Homo sapiens: one gene and its partner. The protein of the gene in region 1 interacts with the protein of each later gene in a pairwise test. Each region holds a gene or a part of one and is shown on either strand. Other genes may lie near its edges.

Region 1 (4,205 bases):
AAAAATCTAAGATTTTCCTTTGAAACATATTACCTTTAAGGTGTATATGAATTAAAATAAAATGCATTAACAAATCCATTATTTGAGGAAATTTCTATTCAAAGAAAATTGCTTTAAATTGCCAGGTGACAATAGCAAAGACTTGGAACCAACCCAAATGTCCATCAATGATAGACTGGATTAAGAAAATGTGGCACATATACACCATGGAATACTATGCAGCCATAAAAAACGATGAGTTCATGTCCTTTGTAGGGACATGGATGAAGCTGGAAACCATCATTCTCAGCAAACTATCGCAAGAACAAAAAACCAAACACCGCATGTTTTCACTCATAGGTGGGAACTGAACAATGAGAACACTTGGACACAGGAAGGGGAACATCACACATTGGGGCCTGTCGTGGGGTAGGGGGAGGGAGGAGGAATAGCATTAGGAGATATACCTAATGTAAATGACAAGTTAATGGGTGCAACATACCAACATGGTGCATGTATACATATGTAACAAAACTGCATGTTGTGCACATGTACCCTAGAACTTAAAAGTATAACAAAAATAAAAAATAAAAAAAAATTGCCAGGTGAGTCAAATCTGCTTGAATTTCCAAACTTTTACCATCAATTATTGATTGTATTTTGACATGGGGAAGAGAAAAGTCCTGGTAGTAAAGTCACAAGAATTTTCTTTATTATAGCAAATACTTTCACGGCATTTGACAGAACTCAGAACTATTTACAAAGAAAGAAAGAAAAATCAAACAACCAAAAGATACATTTCATATAATAGGAAAATATAAAAATCGAAGCCAAGTGACAGAATGAAAAAGTTAGCTAAGCAATGGATTTGAAAAACTTCGATTCTAACTATCTGACTTGTTGCTAATTGTCCAAACATATAATAATTTAAGATGGTCTTTTGAGACTTCCTAGAAGTAAAAAGGAATTATTGAAAAAATGTTCAAATATTTCATAAATAAATACCAAAAATATTTATTTTCATTGTACTTTCCGACTTGCTTCAGTGAAGGTGTCCTTTTACAACACTCTGTTTCTTGTTTCAAATTCTCATCTGGAGATGTTACTTTCTTCCAGAGTGATACTCCCAGCTTACCACAATATTCCTGATTAAGAAAATGCTAGAGCTGTCCTACCTGAGGAAAAGAAGAGAGAACTGCAGAACAATCTGTAAAGTTCCTAGACAGTTCAATCAAGTTAAGGATGGTCCAACTGAGATATTTTGTTACTCCAGCACTTTTCAAGTGTTATTATGAAATCACAATTCTATCTCAGTGTGAGATTTCTTATATAAGTAGGAAGAATTTCATTTCTGTAAACATTTGCAGGGCCAGCTGTTTCTCTAAATAGATTTGTTTCTCCTTAAGAGAGCTGCTCCAGTGAAAAATCTTTTCTTACATTTCATGTCCAAACCCAGAGAGAAACCCAATGTTTTTCTGTGAAAAGACAGAAATACTCAAGTAATATAAAAGCTTCCTGTAATCAAGGAATTGCCTACCTATTACAAGCATGTAATCACTCATTGCAGATTCCTAAAGAATTAAAAATGTTCTTCAGTTACTCATAGTTCATCAGATGTACTGTTAGCCCTTGCTAATTCACATTCTTCACTGGTTTGACAACTCTGAAGGATGTCCTTGTAGTGGTTCTTCAGATCTTCATAAAATGAAACAGTTTCTTGTGAGTAAGCCAAAGGTAACACCTTTTCATTTAATAACATCTGCACTCGGAATTGTTCTTTAGGAGTCTTAGCATTTTCACAGTGGTAAAGCACAAATATCAGGTTCGAGGCATAAGGTACAATGAGACCACTTCGGAACTTCCGATGCATTTGTTTTTTGTAATTGTACGCTGTTAGGGGTTCCTTGTCTTTGAAGTAGCCCATGAGAGAAAGCAGTGGAAGAAGAGTCTCTGCATGACCAAACTGGAGGATGACTGGAGAAGAAATTGGCTGAGACCTTCAAATAGAAATTAAGAGAAAATAAGGTATATATATTAATGTCATAGAACATAGTATTTACACTTAGGAGTAACTTCCACATCTTTTTTTAGTTTAAATAATCCCATCTATTTTTTTAAATCTTTATATACATTACACAAGCATACGGCTGAAATTCCGTGTGGCAGAGAACTAAACTTTTTATACTGAAAGTTAAGTTCCGAAATTCAGATCACTGTACTGTTGTAAATCCATATAAGTGTGCATACATATTTTCCTTTAAGTTTAAAGAGAGAGAAGTGTCTTATAGATATGGGAACTTGAAACAGATGTGTATTTCAACACTGTATTGCCTTTCTGTGCATAAAACTGAGCAACCTGGCCCTTAGTAAATATTACTCCATGGAGCTCTTTTGAATAAAGTGTTATTATTTTATTTATATCTAGGGAATAAGAACAAGCAATATTCAGTAAATGTCTTACCAAGTCTGAACAGGATTACATGGTAATTCATGTAATCCTTAATGGTTTACAAAACCCAAAAAAGGTTAGTGATGTAACCTATTGTGGCTGAAACAATGTGTCTCTGGTTGGGAGTGGGAGTATAAAGTGCCAGGAATACAAACCACTTTCAACACTGAGCTGAATCAATTCTTTTTCTTGAAGTTTTCTATGATTTTTTTTTTCTGGTAAAGAATTTTTATTAAGAAGCAGTGAATGACTGCTTAGCCTTTTCCCTACCTTTATAGAAAAAATAATATTTTTCTTAAATATAATTTGTAAACCTATTCAAACATGACTGTCTGACTTTTTGCCACCACTCATCAGGTTATCAATTTAGTGCATCTGGATTTTCTGGGAGGATAGAAGCAGCAGTTCTAGACCTTCCTGATTCCCTCTGCCCCCAACACACACAAACACAGCAAGCAGATAGCAAATCCAAAAACCCATGGGAAACATTTACAACATAACTAGGTGGAAAAGTATTCTCTATGAACCACTCCAAGTAGCATCCAACCTCAAGCACTAGATATTATCAGTATCTGTTGAAGAAAGCAGAGAGAAGCCACAGAGCATCTGAGCAATCTGAGAACAAGAGAATCCCAAACAGCCCACAGGTATTCACTGGAAGCGCTGTGTGTGAACTGGATATAGCAGCTGAAATTGGGAAGTATTTAGTCCTCTCCAGGACTTGGTGAGTGCAAGGCAGGCCTACAGTGAGGCCCGGGGCTAGAGAATCCTGGAGCTCCTGTGAACTCTCCAAACACAGGGCTCACACTAGAGAAACTGCTGGGAGTGGAATTTCAGCCAAGCAGGAGAGGGACAGAAGAGATAAAGGAAAAAGTAAGTCTAGATGAAAGTGGGGGGAGGGGAACAGAGCCAGGAAATCTCAGAAAACAACCCATCATACTTCTGAACAGTACACACACCAGAACGGGGGGGCTCTGTGAGATGAGACAAGCAATCTGACACAAACCTTTTTCTAAATGTTCAGGAAAACAATTCATATCAAAATAACTACAGAAAAGCATGTAAGAAAAAATAAGGAGCAGAATAACTTCCATATATAAGAGTACGCTAGAAATATATACTCAAAAAGTACACTGAAACTGTTAACAGTATTTCAAAACAAACTAAAAGACAATTATTCACTACTTTCAGATTAATATTCTCTAAAAGGTGTAAAACTTAAAAGCCATTCATCAACAGGCGCTTACCAAGCCTCTCTTCATAACTGGTATACTTTAATTAGGTCATCTAAAATACCTAAAACCTGTATTTATTTCCAAGAAGCAATCTCTTAGGTCTGAAGTTACCAAGCGGTAGCATTCAGAACACAGCCATATTTAGTTTGACCAGCATAAGTATTTTTAAATTTTACATTACTTATCAGTATTTAAAAATTGAGAGGTTTAAGATTCTTAAAAATCCAGATTTTTGCTCTTCTTAGAAATCTGAAAGATCTGGCAACACAAGTCCATATATACCCGTAAGACCATAATCAGCTAAACAGGAATAAGGTTACCCACCCTGTAGAGAGGGCATATACTTGTTACACAGCACATGTATCATTCCACATTGTCTAACATAGGATGAATTCATTCCTTTGTTACTTGCCTGGCCCCTTTATACATCTGAGTATATTCAAGTCTAAACTAACACTACTGTCACCATCTAAATAATGAAATTTAATAAGGATACAAGTTAAAAGAAAAACAAGTAATATAAATATACTGGTTTACATTTT
Region 2 (7,197 bases), on another chromosome or scaffold:
CCTGCAAACATTCGTCTTCTGCTTGTTTTCTTGAGAAAATCGAAGGAAAGGAATAATGAGTTGGCATTGGCATGAACAGCTTAAGCCTACTGTGTGCTAGTCACTGGTTATGAGAGGAAAATGGTACAATTGTTAGAAATGCAGGTTTCTTAACTCTTAGCTTATTCTAGTGATAAAAATAAATGCTAGGTTTCATTTACCCCAGAATCCTATTTTGATATTTTGCAAATATGAGTTATTTCCATATATTATTTTTCAATGCACGCACCCCCACCCCCATTACGCGCTGAGCCCAGTTACAATGCAATGTCATCAGCCCAAAAGGATGAAGTGCAAGTTATGTTTGTCTACTTGACTGAGAAGTAAATCAGCCTCACATGGAGGCTTCTTTTCCATAAAGTGTGGAACCAAAAAAACTGGCGCCTTTCAGTTGACAAAGGCCAATGACATCAGATTTCCCAGGGCTTCTTCCTTGTCAGGTAAAGTAACAACTACACAGTTTTTCCTCCTCTTTATTTTATTTGAACTGAATACTTGTCAGGTCTGACTAGCGCCTACAATCATAGTTTCTATAACCAAGGCAAGGCAAAATCTTGCAAATCAGTGCAAATCCAGATTTGTTAAACTAATTTCCATTCAGGTCCCTCCCTCCATGCCAAAGGAATATATTAAGCAGTGGAATAGAATCTTATTTCATCTATGCCCCATACCATTGTATGGATGTGAGATTTTATGTTGTGTAGATGTGTGAGAGCAGAAGAAATGCATTAGCAGATATTACACTTACATCTCAAATGGAATTCCATCATTTAAGGGAATAAAATAAAATACCTAATTCAAAATTGGAAATGTCTAACATCATTGCTAACAAAGACAGTTTATTATTCTAAACCAGGATTTTTTTTTTCTGCAAAATTATCTTGGCTTTCTCTTAATACAGCTAAAAGACTAGCATTAAGAATTACTTCATGTACTGCAAAGCCAGCAGAGGGAACACTGCGTACTGATTTAGTAGGGGCCACCAAATATCTGGTATTTGGGGAAAAAAATGTCAGTAATGGAGAACTGATTACAGAGCATATGAAGTTAGGGAATGAGAAGGGAGAAATCTTTTCTCATTATTTGGTATTGAGAGGTCCAACACATTCCAGTGTGCACACACTTAGTTGGTCACAAAGATGACTTTAATAAAAGGGCATTCGTCATATGTTTTCTTACATTCTAAGAGAACTAACCCATTAGAACAGATCTATTTCAGAAGTCTAGGCACTTGTGTAATATATAAATATATATGCAGTAATTATAAAGTCAATGGAAGTTACTGATACCATATTTCATCAAGTCTAAGAGGAAATTTTTCTTTTCATTTCAACTCTTCCTGAAATAAGGAGGCATCCTACATCTAGGGGGATATCACAGTTTCATTGGCAGCTTTCTTCCTTGGTGGAATGTAATATAATGGTGTGTCTTAAAATTTGTTGGATTTGTTGAAATACAGAAAATACATGTAACAAAAGAATGAGGCCAGTGGCTGTGTTTTAGTACACCCTTTAAAAAATCCATGTGTTTTAAGCAGAAACATATATGACTGCTTTAACTTCCACTCTTCCCTATCATATTCGATGATGGAAGCATAAATGACTGAGAAATATAATCAATAATGTTGATACTCAACTTGACTGAATTATCAAACTAGCTACACCCTCAAATCATTAGTTAGTACAAATTCAAAAATAAATATTCTTTTTTATTCTAGTGAAAATATTGATCTTATAGATAATAGCCCTCTTAAAATAATTTTTTTTTGTCAGATTGGTAACATTTAAGGATGTGTTTCTATGCACACCAGAGAAAATGTAGTATATAACACAGCAACACTGTTATGCAAAAAAGGTGCCTGTGTGTTTTTGGTTTGGGTTTTTCTTTTTTTAAGGATTTGTTTCTCCTTTTTTAAAAAAATTATGTAATACAAGTAGCTAATCGTCAAAAATTATTTGCTTTTACCCACAAAAACAGTTTTGCTTGTGGTTGATCCTTACAGATCCAGTCAGATGGCTACATAGGGTGTTCTTTCCAGTAAAATTCTAAGTCTGACAACCTGGGCCTATTGCCAGCCTACATACTTTAAAAGTTTGACAAGATACATAGAAATTTACTACCCAGCACTAGTTTAATCTGAATCAAAAGCCGACTTAATTATTTTGGATTGACTTTACCTAACCACTTATGGTTAGCCTGAAGAATATTAGTTTCCTATTATAGTGTTAAGGAAAGCTGATTTTTACTACAATTCTAATTTTCAGACACTGGAAAACAAGTAATTTCTGTAGCCAACGTTTATTTTGAATACCTTGGCATCCTTTCTTTGCCACATTCTTCTTAGTATTCTTCATGGAGTTCCTTTCTTTTAAAATCAATGGAATGGCAGGGTTGCCACTATTGTCCTTCTATGGTTCACATCAATGATCTGTGATTACTTTTTTTTTTTTTTTGAGATAGTCACACGCTATCACCCACACTGGAGTGCAGTGGCTCAATCTTAGCTCACTGCAACCTCCTGGGTTCAAGCAATTCTCCCGCCTTAGCTTCTCGAGTAGCTGGAATTACAGGCGCATGCATCCCTGCCCAGCTAATTTTTTAATTTTTTAATTTTTAGTAGAGACAGGGTTTCACCATGTTGACCAGGCTGGTCTCGAACTCCTGACCTGAAGTGATCCACCCACCTTAGCCTCCCAAAGTGCTGGGATTACAGGCGTGAGCCACCGCGTCCTGCCTGTTATTACTTTTTTACATAAGTGGCTATTCTGTTTTAGCCTCTTGAACAACATGCAGCTTTTACTAGGAGTGTGTCTGGCATTTGAATTAGAAAGGAAGATATTAGTATTCATTGAGGGCTTACAATACATCAGGTGCTTCATAGTCACAAATTCATTGAACCCTCACAACAACCCTCTATAAAGTAGCTCCTAGTGTTCCCATATAATAGATGAGGAAAACTGAGACTTGGCCACATCCCCATAGTTACAAACCATTAAGAAGGATTAGCAGCCAGGTCTACTATGAATCCGGAGGCCCCATTCTCTTCTGCTACCAGTTATCACCTCCTTCTACAGTTTCTCTTTGCCTTGGTTTTTCAGTTCCCTTCGATTCAAGTAACAAGAGGAAATATATAAGAAGGAAAGGAGGAAGATGGCTTTGGGAGGAGGAGAGGGAAGAGAGTGAAGCAATCTTTAATTTTGAAAACAGGGAAAACAAATATTTAGAAAGTAAAACCGATTTCCATCCTTTACATGCCATTATACATCCTATACAAAACTCTGGAAATCTGCCTATTGAGGTAATTACGGAGCACTACCTAATGTGTTTCAAGGGAAAGCTCCCCTGTTTGGGCTATGCAGGATTTACAGGGAGTTTAAATCATTAAATAACCATAGTTGACCCTTGCTTGGTTAAGAGAGTAAGCAATTATTGCAAAGTCCTCTTCCCTGCCTTCCACAAACAGCACAAAAACGGTTCTGAAGGGATTTACACAATACATCAACATCTGTGCTGTACCTAGAGTTGTTAAAATAATTGTGATGACAGGTGTCTAGGTACCACTTTCTTAATGGTTTTCAATATCCATTGATTTATTGTTTTGTGGCTTTCTCTTCCCCTTTACAGCTTTGGCTTTAAGAAAGAGCTGGGGAACAGATTTTGCACCAGAGGCTGATTCTTTATTCCAATGCTGAAAAGAACTAATAAAAATAATCACTTGGCTTTTAAGCAGAAAGCTTCCATTTACAGTATTTCACCCTTACCCCGCCCCGTTCCAAGCCCCTTGTTATCTAACATAATGGTTAGAATACATTTCCGTCTCTCCCCTTAATAATTTCATGCATTAACATCCTCTTCACACACTATACACACACGCACGCGCGCACACACACGCGCGCGCACACACACAGCAAAAGGAAAAAAGAGGCAGCAGAAATCTCAGCTGTACTTCTAGCCCTTTTAAAAAGTTTGCTCTGTAAATTGGAATGAGGTCAGATTTGGAGCTTCTCATTGCACGCGGAGATTATTATTGCATCGGGTTCCAAGCCAATGGGAAGCCCGGGGGAGGGGTTTGGCATGAGGAAGCGTTGGTTACAGCAGCTGATTGGCTGCAGCCAAGACTGTGAAAGGATAAAGAGGCGCGAGGCGGAATTGGGGTCTGCTCTAAGCTGCAGCAAGAGAAACTGTGTGTGAGGGGAAGAGGCCTGTTTCGCTGTCGGGTCTCTAGTTCTTGCACGCTCTTTAAGAGTCTGCACTGGAGGAACTCCTGCCATTACCAGCTCCCTTCTTGCAGAAGGGAGGGGGAAACATACATTTATTCATGCCAGTCTGTTGCATGCAGGCTTTTTGGCTTCCTACCTTGCAACAAAATAATTGCACCAACTCCTTAGTGCCGATTCCGCCCACAGAGAGTCCTGGAGCCACAGTCTTTTTTGCTTTGCATTGTAGGAGAGGGACTAAGTGCTAGAGACTATGTCGCTTTCCTGAGCTACCGAGAGCGCTCGTGAACTGGAATCAACTGCTTCAGGGAAAAAGAAAAAAAAAAAAAAAAGACTTGCCTGGGAGGCCGCGAGAAACTTGCATTGGAAGCTTCAGCAACCAGCATTCGAGAAACTCCTCTCTACTTTAGCACGGTCTCCAGACTCAGCCGAGAGACAGCAAACTGCAGCGCGGTGAGAGAGCGAGAGAGAGGGAGAGAGAGACTCTCCAGCCTGGGAACTATAACTCCTCTGCGAGAGGCGGAGAACTCCTTCCCCAAATCTTTTGGGGACTTTTCTCTCTTTACCCACCTCCGCCCCTGCGAGGAGTTGAGGGGCCAGTTCGGCCGCCGCGCGCGTCTTCCCGTTCGGCGTGTGCTTGGCCCGGGGAACCGGGAGGGCCCGGCGATCGCGCGGCGGCCGCCGCGAGGGTGTGAGCGCGCGTGGGCGCCCGCCGAGCCGAGGCCATGGTGCAGCAAACCAACAATGCCGAGAACACGGAAGCGCTGCTGGCCGGCGAGAGCTCGGACTCGGGCGCCGGCCTCGAGCTGGGAATCGCCTCCTCCCCCACGCCCGGCTCCACCGCCTCCACGGGCGGCAAGGCCGACGACCCGAGCTGGTGCAAGACCCCGAGTGGGCACATCAAGCGACCCATGAACGCCTTCATGGTGTGGTCGCAGATCGAGCGGCGCAAGATCATGGAGCAGTCGCCCGACATGCACAACGCCGAGATCTCCAAGCGGCTGGGCAAACGCTGGAAGCTGCTCAAAGACAGCGACAAGATCCCTTTCATTCGAGAGGCGGAGCGGCTGCGCCTCAAGCACATGGCTGACTACCCCGACTACAAGTACCGGCCCAGGAAGAAGGTGAAGTCCGGCAACGCCAACTCCAGCTCCTCGGCCGCCGCCTCCTCCAAGCCGGGGGAGAAGGGAGACAAGGTCGGTGGCAGTGGCGGGGGCGGCCATGGGGGCGGCGGCGGCGGCGGGAGCAGCAACGCGGGGGGAGGAGGCGGCGGTGCGAGTGGCGGCGGCGCCAACTCCAAACCGGCGCAGAAAAAGAGCTGCGGCTCCAAAGTGGCGGGCGGCGCGGGCGGTGGGGTTAGCAAACCGCACGCCAAGCTCATCCTGGCAGGCGGCGGCGGCGGCGGGAAAGCAGCGGCTGCCGCCGCCGCCTCCTTCGCCGCCGAACAGGCGGGGGCCGCCGCCCTGCTGCCCCTGGGCGCCGCCGCCGACCACCACTCGCTGTACAAGGCGCGGACTCCCAGCGCCTCGGCCTCCGCCTCCTCGGCAGCCTCGGCCTCCGCAGCGCTCGCGGCCCCGGGCAAGCACCTGGCGGAGAAGAAGGTGAAGCGCGTCTACCTGTTCGGCGGCCTGGGCACGTCGTCGTCGCCCGTGGGCGGCGTGGGCGCGGGAGCCGACCCCAGCGACCCCCTGGGCCTGTACGAGGAGGAGGGCGCGGGCTGCTCGCCCGACGCGCCCAGCCTGAGCGGCCGCAGCAGCGCCGCCTCGTCCCCCGCCGCCGGCCGCTCGCCCGCCGACCACCGCGGCTACGCCAGCCTGCGCGCCGCCTCGCCCGCCCCGTCCAGCGCGCCCTCGCACGCGTCCTCCTCGGCCTCGTCCCACTCCTCCTCTTCCTCCTCCTCGGGCTCCTCGTCCTCCGACGACGAGTTCGAAGACGACCTGCTCGACCTGAACCCCAGCTCAAACTTTGAGAGCATGTCCCTGGGCAGCTTCAGTTCGTCGTCGGCGCTCGACCGGGACCTGGATTTTAACTTCGAGCCCGGCTCCGGCTCGCACTTCGAGTTCCCGGACTACTGCACGCCCGAGGTGAGCGAGATGATCTCGGGAGACTGGCTCGAGTCCAGCATCTCCAACCTGGTTTTCACCTACTGAAGGGCGCGCAGGCAGGGAGAAGGGCCGGGGGGGGTAGGAGAGGAGAAAAAAAAAGTGAAAAAAAGAAACGAAAAGGACAGACGAAGAGTTTAAAGAGAAAAGGGAAAAAAGAAAGAAAAAGTAAGCAGGGCTGGCTTCGCCCGCGTTCTCGTCGTCGGATCAAGGAGCGCGGCGGCGTTTTGGACCCGCGCTCCCATCCCCCACCTTCCCGGGCCGGGGACCCACTCTGCCCAGCCGGAGGGACGCGGAGGAGGAAGAGGGTAGACAGGGGCGACCTGTGATTGTTGTTATTGATGTTGTTGTTGATGGCAAAAAAAAAAAAGCGACTTCGAGTTTGCTCCCCTTTGCTTGAAGAGACCCCCTCCCCCTTCCAACGAGCTTCCGGACTTGTCTGCACCCCCAGCAAGAAGGCGAGTTAGTTTTCTAGAGACTTGAAGGAGTCTCCCCCTTCCTGCATCACCACCTTGGTTTTGTTTTATTTTGCTTCTTGGTCAAGAAAGGAGGGGAGAACCCAGCGCACCCCTCCCCCCCTTTTTTTAAACGCGTGATGAAGACAGAAGGCTCCGGGGTGACGAATTTGGCCGATGGCAGATGTTTTGGGGGAACGCCGGGACTGAGAGACTCCACGCAGGCGAATTCCCGTTTGGGGCTTTTTTTTCCTCCCTCTTTTCCCCTTGCCCCCTCTGCAGCCGGAGGAGGAGATGTTGAGGGGAGGAGGCCAGCCAGTGTGACCGGCGCTAGGAAATGACCCGAGAACCCCGTTGGAAGCGCAGCAGCGGGAGCTAGGGGCG

Evidence for each region. The genes of interacting proteins can lie anywhere in the genome.
Region 2: the proteins of MINPP1 (region 1) and SOX4 interact in a two-hybrid assay, tested with the Homo sapiens proteins (one study listed by BioGRID).

What each region holds. Positions count from the first base shown.
Region 1 is NC_000010.11:87,549,853-87,554,057, reverse strand, and holds the end of MINPP1 (multiple inositol polyphosphate phosphatase 1 isoform 1 precursor), read right to left. Parts: intron 1,977-4,205; coding exon 1,580-1,976; 3' UTR 597-1,579; downstream 1-596. UniProt on the Homo sapiens protein: Multiple inositol polyphosphate phosphatase that hydrolyzes 1D-myo-inositol 1,3,4,5,6-pentakisphosphate (InsP5[2OH]) and 1D-myo-inositol hexakisphosphate (InsP6) to a range of less phosphorylated inositol phosphates.
Region 2 is NC_000006.12:21,589,554-21,596,750, forward strand, and holds the start of SOX4 (transcription factor SOX-4), read left to right. Parts: upstream 1-4,197; 5' UTR 4,198-4,981; coding exon 4,982-6,406; 3' UTR 6,407-7,197. UniProt on the Homo sapiens protein: Transcriptional activator that binds with high affinity to the T-cell enhancer motif 5'-AACAAAG-3' motif. Required for IL17A-producing Vgamma2-positive gamma-delta T-cell maturation and development, via binding to regulator loci of RORC to modulate expression.